2 separate regions of the Homo sapiens genome follow, and region 2 is linked to region 1. The links come from fine-mapping of genetic effects on plasma protein levels. A gene starts in region 1. The other region holds a variant in brackets. All regions are shown on one strand. Distances are between the middles of the regions. Region 1 holds the start of PTGR1 (prostaglandin reductase 1). Region 2 overlaps ECPAS (Ecm29 proteasome adaptor and scaffold).

Region 1 (5,347 bases):
TCTACTAAAAATACAAAAAAAAAAAAAAATTAGCCGGGCGTGTTGGTGGGCGCCTGTAATCCCAGCTACTCAGGTGGCTGAGGCAGGGAGAATTGCTTGAACCTGGGAGGCAAAGGTTGCAGTGAGCCGAGATTGCTCCACTGCAATCCAGCCTGGGTGACAGAGCAAGACTCCATCTCAGAAAAAATACAAAAATTAGGGGGGCATGGTGGCGCACACCTGTAATCCCAGCTACTCAGGAGGCTGAGGCAAGAGAATCGCTTGGACCCAGAAGGCAGAGGTTGCAGTGAGCCAAAATCATGCCACTGCACTCCAACCTGGGCAACAGAGCAAGACTCTGTCTCAAAAAAAAAAAAAAAAAAAAAAGAGAAAGTGCTTGCACATTGGAGCTTGCCAACTACTGCTGCTCTAGATCTATGGGGCCACTATAAGAATAGAGCTCAAGCTAGCCTGCTAGAAAGGCCACATAGATGAGAACTAAGGCATGCACCCCAACAGAAAGCCTGCTAATCAGCAGACATGTGAGCAAGGCCCATCCTAAATTAACCATTTACCCCAGATGAGACCTAAGAAGAACCACCCAGCTTAACTCAGCCCAAATTGCCAACCCAAAGAATTGTGAACTAATAAACCGTTGTTGCTTAAAGTCACTAAACTTTGGGGTAGTTTGTTATGCAGCAAAAGCTAACTGATACAGTCCCTTCCAACTCTGAAATATTTTTAGTATGACTTACCTCCATTTTTTAAGGGTGGGAGCTCAGCTGTCTTCAACTCAAAGTCACTATTAGTAGGATAGCCAACAAAGTGCTTCTTCAGGGTCCATGTCTTAGTACGAACCATCCTGAAGCTCCTAGAACACAGTAAATATGTAGTCAACTGCCATGAAGTGACTGCATTCTAACAGTTCTCTAGCCGTCAAACTGAGACCAGACAGCACAATTACAATATCCTCAAATCCCATCATTATCATATCATGCCAACCACATTCATTTAACATTTACTATGTTTCTGGTGCTGTGCTAAGCACTTCATATAGATTACCTCATTTTATCCTTATAACTTCCCTATAAGATAGACATTAGTATCATTGCCAGTGTACGGATGAGGAAACTGAGGTTTAAAGAAATCTTCAAGACAAGGAAAAAATATAAAACAACAAAGAAATTCTTCCCAGCCACTGCTAGGCTAGAGTTTCTCTACGGCACTGAACAGTTACCGGAAGTGCGAATATTCCATTCCGTTTCTCATCTCACATGGAGTGAATTCTAAGAAAAAGCATCAAACACAAAGAACCCAATAGATAGAAGTCCATGCACCTCTTTCAGATGGAAACAGCCACGCATTTCAAGGCAGTCTCAGAACTCCTGAAAACCACCGGAGGGCGCCGCTGCTCCGCCCCATTTTCAGGTGCGTTTTTTTTTTTTTTAAATACTTTTTTTTCTCTCTTTTCTTGTAGAGAGGAGCCTCACTGTGTTGCCTAGGCGATCCGCCCGCCTCGGTCTCCCAAAGTGCTGGGATTACAGGTGTGAACCACTTGCACTCAGCCATCGGGTGCGAATTTTCTTTGGCCCAGTAGGGATTTGAGTTTAAACTCCACACCAAACCGATTTTGAGCTGAAACGCTGCACCAAAGCAAGGGAAGATGATGAAGGCTGCCCCGAGCTGGGGGTTCAGGATGTTCTGCTTGGACTGAACTCTGCCGAATCACTTGGGACCTGCGCCTTCCCGCGGGTGCATCCGCTACAAACAATCCAGTTACGAAACCATTTGGAGCTGCCAGTGATCTCCCCAGCTCCCCTACCGGTGCCGCGGGAGGGGACACGGTGACCTGGAGGGAGCACTCCCGCATTGCGAGGGAGCCAGGGGGGCGGTCTGATCTGCAGCCCGGGGTTGTTCCTTCTTTTCTTTTTTTAAAATTAAGACTTTTTTTGTGACGGAGTCTCGCTCTGTCGCCCAGGCTGAAGTGCAATGGCGCGATCTCAGCTCACTGCAACCTCCGTCTCCCGGGTTCAAGCGGTTCTCCTGTCTCAGCCTCCTGAGTAGCTGGGATTACAGGCGCCCGCCACCACGCCCAGCTAATTTTTGTACTTTTAGTAGAGACGGGGTTTCCCCATGTTGGCCAGACTGGTCTAGAACTCCTGAGCTCAAATGATTCGCCCGCCTCGACCTTCCATAGTGCTGGGATTACAGGCGTGAGCCACCGCGCCAGGCCCTACGTATCATTTTTACGGTGAGACATTTGCAGTTTACTCTGTTATTTCGAAATACACATTATTGGCTCTAGTCACTCTGCTGTGCAACAGATCTCAGAACCTACTCCTCTCGTCTCTGAACTTCGTACCCTTTGGCCAACAAGCCCCCATTCCCCCCCGAACCCGCTCCCAGCCTCTGGCAACCATCATTCTAGTCGTTATTTCTATGAGTTCAACTTCTTTAGAGTTCACACATCTTTGTCCCTTTCCCCAAAAAAGCAACCGCTGGGCTTCCAAACTCGCTACAAGTCCAGAAGCCCTCCTGGAAAGGGTCTGGCCGCAGAGGGGCCAGGTCCCGGGAAAGTCTCGCCCGCCCGAGGAGGGGGCCTGGCGCGGCGCCCGGCCTTTGCCCGCTCGCCCTTTGCTCCCACCCTCGCCTCCCGCCGCCCGCCGCCCGCTTGCCCATTCCCGAATCCCCACCCCGATCTTTCTTCTTCTACCCTCCCCCAGTTGTGCAGTCCAGCAAGTTCCCTGGCCAGCCCCCTCCCGGGTGCAGGAAGCTACCGGGTGTCCCGGGTTGTAACCAAGCTTTCCTATTCCCTCCGGCGCGCGGCTCCAAGCTCTCCAAGGAACTGCGGGGGCGGGAGGCGTCGGGACGTCGGCTCCCAAGATCCTCCGAGTGCAAGACCCAGCGGTCATTTCGACGTAAGGGGAGGAGGTCTAAGAGCAAACCTCCTCCACTGGGGCGTCTAGAAACTTGGCAGGAAGAAAGCAAGGGGGTTAGAGGAGGGAGAAAAGGGAAGGAAAGAAAGCAGGAGGTCTACTTACAGGAGCCCGAAGGTTCCACTGCCTGGGGAAGGCGGCTGGGACTGCGCAGCCGGGCGCCCGGGGTCCGACTTATGACAGGTCCCAAGAGAGGGTGGGGCCACCCCAGGGCGGGGCTGCTTCTTTAGGGTGAGAGCCCGGCCCCGAAAGGGTCACAGGAGGAAAACCAGGGTCCGGGAAATCTGAGTGCGTTTGTGTGTGTGTGTGCGCGTATCTCTGTGTGCCTATGTGCATGTGCGCGCGCGTATGTGTGCATGTGTGCGTGTGTGTGCGTGCGCGCCCGCGCGCCCGTGTGTGTGCGTGTAGGGGGTTAGGGACTCCTGATAGGAAAATTCCTAACAGAGCTTTGTCCAGCTGACACTGGACCTCCGCCTGGGGTCCTAAGTTGGAGCCCGGCGGAAATATGCCCCGTGGGGGAACCAACCGTGGCATCTGCCAAGCAGGCCGGAAGGGTCCAAAGGCAGGGCCTGGGGCGGCCGCAGCCCTAATAAGCCCCCGGTGCTGGCTCCGATCCCTGGGCTCCCCGTCAGCCCTGCCGCTTGCCCGCAGTGCAAGCTTTCGCCCAGGGCTGCGGTGCAGACACCCTGCCTGTCTGTCCCCAGTCCGCCTGCTGAACACCTACTCGCCTTCCACCAGCCAATTCAAGGTCACCTCTGTGAACCCTTGCCAGACTCCCCCAGGCAGGAGTGAGCACTCTTGCCACTGAGGCACCCCACCCATCACACCCTAGCAAACATCAGGCCTTGACCTGGCTTCTGCAAGGAGAGGTGGTCTCAGGCAGGGGTTGAACGTGAAGCTAAGTCGTTGGTATTAGACGACTGCAGGTTCGAAGCCTGCACCTGCCACTTACTAGTGGTGTAGCTTTCAAAGACTTACTTACCTTCTCCTTGCCTCACTCAGTTCAGCCATCTGCAAGATGGGGATAAGAAGAATGCCTAACTTCCAGTCATTGTGAAGATTCAATGTCTTTAATTTATTTATTTAATTTTAATTATTTTGAGGTCTTGCTCTGTCACCCAGGCTGGAGTGCAATGGTGGGCATCATAGCTCATTGCAGCCTTGAACTCCTGGACTCAGGTGATCCTCCTTCAGCCTCCCTAGAAGCTGGGATTACAGGCCCACCACCACACCTGGCTCAATGTCTCTCCTTGTAAGGATACCCGCCATATTGGATTAGAGCCCCACTTGTCAGCCTCCGTTTAACTTAAACACGTCTTTGAAGGCCTTGTCTTCAAATACTGTCAAATGGATTAGGGCTCACTAATATGGCCTCATGTAACCTTAATTACCTCTTTAAAGGCCCTATCTACAAATACAGTTACATTCTGAGTACTGGGACTTGGGGATTTTAACACATGAAATTGGGGAAGACACAGTTCAGCCCATAACAGAGTGTGTGGACCAAGCGTGGTGGACGCATGCCACAGGATATACACAGCATCAGAAGCACTGGGTTCCATGTACATAAAGCAACTTGGATGGACCCTAAAAACACAATGCCGAGAGTTGAATTCTTCACACTAATCAGAGTTGGTGGCACTTTATCCCCACTGGTCTGCCAAATTCTTTCTTTCTCACTCTCTCCCTTCTCATTAATTTATGTAACTTAATATAAAACAAAACTCCATTCCCAGGCTGGGTGCTGTGGCTCATGCCTGTAATCCTAGCACTTTTGGAGTCTGAGACAAAAGGACCACTTGAGGCCAAGCATTCAAGACTTGCGTGGGCAACATAGCTTTAACCTGGGAGGTGGAGGCTGCAGCGAGCTGCGATCGTGGCACTGCACTCTAGACTGGGTGTCTAAGTGAGATCCCGTCTCAAAAGAAAACCAAAAAAACTCAATTTCCTGCTTTTCTCCTCCTACTATAGGTAACTACTGTGATGTATTTGATTTGCATACAGTTTTTTTTTCCATGTTCTTACATAATGTGCACTGTGGTCATATACATTTAATTTATAGAAACGGTATTGGGTTACATATCGCATTCTGCTTCTCTCTTTTTTTTTTCTTTTAAGATAACTTGTTACAGAATCACTGTTTCTTTTGGATATTAGAAGTGTTAATAAAATTGCAGGCATAAAAAGTCTTTGCAAAGTAAGAATAAGAGAAAAAAGTGCCAGAAACACAGAGTGGCTCACATATTTACTCACTTGTCCTTAAATTGAAGATACAGATAAGATTGGGCCGCACCAGGTCAAACAAAATCTGTTTCCCAAACTTGATGACTCAGTCAGTCTCAAAGGCTGCAGCTTGTCAAGTCATGGTGATTAAGTTAAATCACGGCTGTTACATACTCGCACACAGAGAGTTAGAATATGGAATAAAGGAT
Region 2 (5,379 bases), 140 kb before region 1:
TAAAGGAGCCAACGGACCTATATTTTCATGTCAGATACATTACTGGTTTTAGTTAGTAAACTAAACCTCTCTAAGGTTATTAATGAACTTGTCTATTAGGAACAGCATAAGATTGCTTCATAAGAATGTTGTGAAACATTATATAATGTTATATACGGCTATCATATTACAGATGTAGCTTTTATATTCTTGTGTAATAAAGAATTTAGGTGACCTCTGTCCATGTTCCTGAGAGGAAAGCACTAAACCCTTGGGATTTCCCCAGTAACTGAAGTGCCTTTGTTATTCATGGTGGGACCCTCTAATCACATTTGATAACTTACACTGAGGAAGTAACTCATAGTGGGCCCCAGATTGTTTACGCTAAGAGATAACTCAGGATGGGGGTTGATCACACTAGAAAGACTAATCATCTTGCAGGTTTTCAGCCAGGTGATTAGGGGAGGTGGACAAGGGGAAGGGTTGGAGAGGGAGAGGAGGGTGGGGGGGGTGTTAGAAATTGAGTCACATGGGCAATGATCCAATCAATCAATCACACCTGGTCAATAAAACCCTGGACACCAAAGTTCAGGTGAGCCGGTGAGCTTCTATGATCAGCAGTGCATTGTGTGTATTATCACACATTGCTATACTGGGAAAGTACCCTGACACAACACAAGCTTTGCATCTGGAACCCTCTCAGGCCTTGCCCTACATGTCTCTCCCTTTGGCTGGTTTTAACTTGCATCCTTTTCTATAAAACCATAACCATAAATACACGGCTTTCCTGAGTTCTGACTCGTTCTAGCTAATGATTAAACCTGAGGGGGTCCATGGAGACCCCCAAATCTGTATCCAATAGGTCAAAAGTGAGGGTGGCTCTGGGATAACAGGAACTTGTAGGTGGCATATGAAGTCGATTCAGTCTAGTGGAGGGCTATGCCCTTAACTGGTTAGGTTTGGCAGAGTAATTATATATGATATAAAATATTTTCCATATGTTATATAAATATTGTATATAATTATCTCTCAGAATACATTATTCCTTTAATTTTACCTTTTTCTTTTTTTTTCCCCTTAAGCTCAGTGGCAAGAAGAAATTATTATCTTTTTCTTTTTTGTATTTTTTGTAGAAATGAGGTCTATGTTGCCCAGGCTGCTTGTGAACTCCTGGCCTCAAGCGATCCTCCTGCCTCAAACTCCCAAAGTGCTGGAATTACAGGTATGAGCCATCATATTTGGCTAATTTTACCTCCTTTTTAAATAAAGCTGACTACTACTACAAAAATAAGTATTTTAATAAATCAGAAGTCTACGAAATATTTGAGAACACACATTCCATCAGCTGGGAGCAAAATATGAATTATTAGTAGAATCCCACCTAGAGTAGGAATCCTATGCTAGGTATGTTAATAACCCCATTTACTACCACCAAAGGAAAACTGAGCCAGGCCAGAAAGCTAAAAATCCCATGTGACAATACCTCAGAGACACAAGAGCTCATCATACGGAGGCATAACTTAGTACAAAGTCATAATTACATGATTTTAAGGGGCTTTTTTAATTACTTCTAAAGACAGACCACAATGATACAACTCACAATTATAAATTCTGCTTTAAAAAACTGGTTCATTCTAAATTACCACAAATATGAACTGTATTATTTAAAAACCTCCCCACACAAAAAAATGGCAGGACCTTATGAATTCGCTGGTAAATTCTCCTTCATAACTTCTTCCAGAGAAGAGAAAAAGGTGGGGTAAAGGGATGGCAGGGGAACACATCCCTGAATGTTAAGAGGCCAGAATAACCTTGATACCAAACAAGGGTATCCCCAGAAAGATAAAAGCAAATAAAAGATATTTCTCATGAATATAGACGCAAATGAGATAATAAAATAATATTTAAATCATAATACATAAAATAAGTAAAAAATATGAGTCAAATCCAGCGATACATAAAAAGGATAATACATCATACAAAAATTGGATTTATTCCAAAGATGCAAAGTTGGTTTAATATTGAAAATCAGTGTAATCTGCCACATTAACACAATAGAGAATAACAATCATATGATCATCTCAATATATACAGAAAAGGCATTTGATCAAATTCAACATCTCTTCATGCTAAATAGATGGGAACAAACTATTCATGTTGAAGAGACAAGGAAGAAAAGAGAACTTCCTTAATCTGATAAGAGATTTTTATAAAAACTTACAGCAAACATTATATCTAAAGGTAAAATACCAAACACTTTTCCTCTGAGTTCAGGAACAAGGTAAAGATGTTCACTATTACCAATTCTATTCAAATTTGTACTGCAAATTTTATTCAGAGCAATAAGACAAAGAAAAATAAAATGCATTAAGATTACAAAGGAAGAAATAATATTTTCATTATTTAAAGATAATGATTGGTACACAAAAAATCCAAAACAATCTATGGAAAAATTAATAGAATAACAAAATACACAAATCAATTGGTTTCCTATATAATAGTAATAAACCATTAGAAAACAAAATTTGAAAACACCTATTACAATGACATCAAAACACATCGAATAGCTGGGAATTAATCTAGGGAAAAATGTGTAAGACCTCTACACAGAAAACTAAAATACACCGCTACAAGAAATTAAGGAAAACTTAAAAGATACACCATATTCACAGATTAGAAAATATTAATAAGATGTCAATTCTCCCCAAATTGACCTATAGACAATATAATCCAAGCACAATCCATCAGATAACTTGGGTAACACTAAAAAGCTGATCCTAGAGCCAGGCACAGTGGCTCGAGCCTATAGTGGTTCCAGGCCAGCCTGGGCAACACAGGAAGATACTAACTATCTCAATCAATGAATGAGTGGATGAATAATCTTTAAATGTGTGGATACCACTAGAAGAAAAAAAAAAGTTGATTCTTTCTATAATTTAAAGAAATGCAAAGGACCAAGATTTGCCAAAACTATCTTGAAGAGGAAAAACAGCTAGAAGACT[T/C]TGGTCAAATTTCAAGGCTAACTACAGTAGGCTGGGCACAGTGGCTCAGCCCTGTAATCCCAGCACTGTGGGAGGGCAAGGCAGGCTGATTGCTTGAGCTCAGGAGTTTGAGACCAGCCTGGGCAACATGGTGAAACCCCATCTCTACCAAAAAAAAAAAAAAAAATTTAGCTGGGCGTGGTGGCGTGCACCTGTAGTCCCTGCTACTTGAGAGGCTTAGGTGGGAGAACTGCTTGAGCCCAGGAGGTAGAGGTTGCAGTGAGCCAAGATCATGCCACTGCACTCCAGCCTGAGCAAAAGAGCAAGACCTTGTCTCAAAAAAATAAACACATAAAATAAAAACTACAGTAATTAAAAGTATACTATGCTAACAAAAAATAAGTAGACCACTTGAACAAAATAGAAAATGTGTAAAAGACAAACAGGTATATAGTCACCTGGTTTAAACAGAGGTGTCACTGCAATGTAGTGAGTAAATGATGGTCTTTTCAATAAATGGTGTTAAATCAACTGTATTCCAATATGGGAGAACAATATTTAATCCCTACCTCACACCATATCTATTAGTCCGTTTTCATGATGCTGATAAAGACATATCCAAGACTAGAGAATTCACAAAGGAAAGAGGTTTAATGGAGAACTACAGTTCCATGTGGATAGGGAAGCCTTTCAATCATGGCAGAAGGCAAGGAGGAGCAAGTCACATCTTAACATGGATGGCAGCAGGCAAAGGGACAGCTTGTACAGGCAAACTCCCGTTTCTGAAACCATCAGATCTCCTAAGACCCACTCGCTATCACGAGAACAGCATGGGAAAGACTCACTCCCATGATTCAATCATCTCCCACTGCATCCCTCCCACAGCACATGGGAATTATGGGAGCTACAAGATGAGATTTGGACGGGGACACAGAGCCAAACCATATCATCAAACAAAAAGAAAATCAATTCCAGATGGATCATAAATCTAAATGTCAAAGGTAAAACAATAAAGTTTCTAGAGAAATAAAGAATATTCTCATTACCTCGAGATAGGAAAAGATATCTTAAAACAAGAAGCTAGATGGTAAGGGAGTCTGAAAAATATGATTAGCAGAATCTGTCCCAAAGAGTAGTTTATAACTGTGGAGCTGGAAATAACCGTCACTGAAAGAAACTTTCATAATCTGACAAAAAGCATCTATGTAAAATCTACAGCAAATATATCTCATACAAAATCAGAAACAAGATGTGCACTATCATCACTTCCAAGCAAATTGAACTGGAACTGCTAGAAAATGCAATATGGAAGTAGGAGATACTAAAAACTGTCAGTATTCACAGATTACATGATATTTATGGGATAGGGTATGTAAAATAAGAAAGTTAATTATGTTGCATACAAGATCAGAGTACAGAAGTCAACTGAGATAAATGAGAACAAAGTATCAATGTAGTTTTTAAAAACATATAATTAACAATGGCAATAAAACTACAAGTTATCTGGAAATAAATCTAATGAAACATGTCATAGTCCTTTACAGAGAAAATTATAATCCTAACTATAATTCATAAGATCTAAATTAATGGAGAAGCACAACATTCATGGAATTTTTTTTTTTTTTTTTTTTTTGAGACAGAGTTTCACTCTGTCACCAAGGCTGGAGTGCAGTGGTGCAATCTCGGCTCACTGCAACTTCTGCCTCCCAGGTTCAAGCGATTCTCCTGCCTCAGCCTCCCAAATAGCTGGGATTACAGGCATGCGCCACCACACCTGGCTAATTTTGTATTTTTTGTAGAGATGCAGTTTCGCCATGTTGGTCAGGCTGGTCTCAAACTCCTGACCTCACTCAGGTGATCCACCCACCTCAACCTCCCAAAGTGCTGATACTACAAGTGTGAGCCACCACACCCAACTACATTCATGGATTTCCATGTCAGGATAGGTTAGTGATAATAACCCCCAAATTTCCATGGCTTAAAAACAACCAACATTAGTTTCTCACTTAGACCATGCCTCAGTCATAGATCAGGAGGAGGGCTCTGCTCACTACAGTCGGCTGATAGAGCCAACACCATCTCAAACACCGCTAGTTAGTGCCATATCCTCAATCCTTCTGGCTCAATTCAACCCTTCTGTGGTGAAACTTCTGTGGTGAATCACATGTCTCTCACTGTGTCCCCAGCACTAAATTCTATTTTGTGCCCAAAAGAGAGAACTAGAAATATCTGGTAAACAGCACTAATGCTCACAAATAAACTCAATATTGCAAAGATGGGAAGCCCCCAACAGTCAAACATTCTCTACAGAAAACAGAGTGCTTTGTGAAAGCTGAAAAAAATTATAAAATTCCTTTGGAATATGAATGGAACAGAGTATGAAACAGCAAAGAGCCAAGAGTAACTGTCAATTTTCCAT

Evidence for each region. A credible set is the group of variants that fine-mapping cannot tell apart. PIP is the posterior inclusion probability: the model's chance that the variant is causal. Sun 2018 read protein levels with aptamers (SomaScan).
Region 2: its variant is the best candidate, but not a certain one, in a credible set for the plasma level of the PTGR1 protein (Sun 2018, PIP 0.76).

The regions. Positions count from the first base shown.
Region 1 is chr9:111,596,583-111,601,929 of GRCh38, forward strand. PTGR1 (prostaglandin reductase 1) reads right to left here and starts at 3,065. Exons shown (of 10, transcript NM_001146108.2): 1 at 3,021-3,065; 2 at 735-850. The coding sequence starts at 840. RefSeq lists an enhancer at 2,916-3,488.
Region 2 is chr9:111,458,168-111,463,546 of GRCh38, forward strand. The region is part of intron 2 of ECPAS (Ecm29 proteasome adaptor and scaffold); the gene reads right to left. Among named protein-coding and RNA genes, the nearest start is that of ECPAS, 24 kb to the right of the region's middle. The variant T/C (reference allele first, on the strand shown) is at 2,982.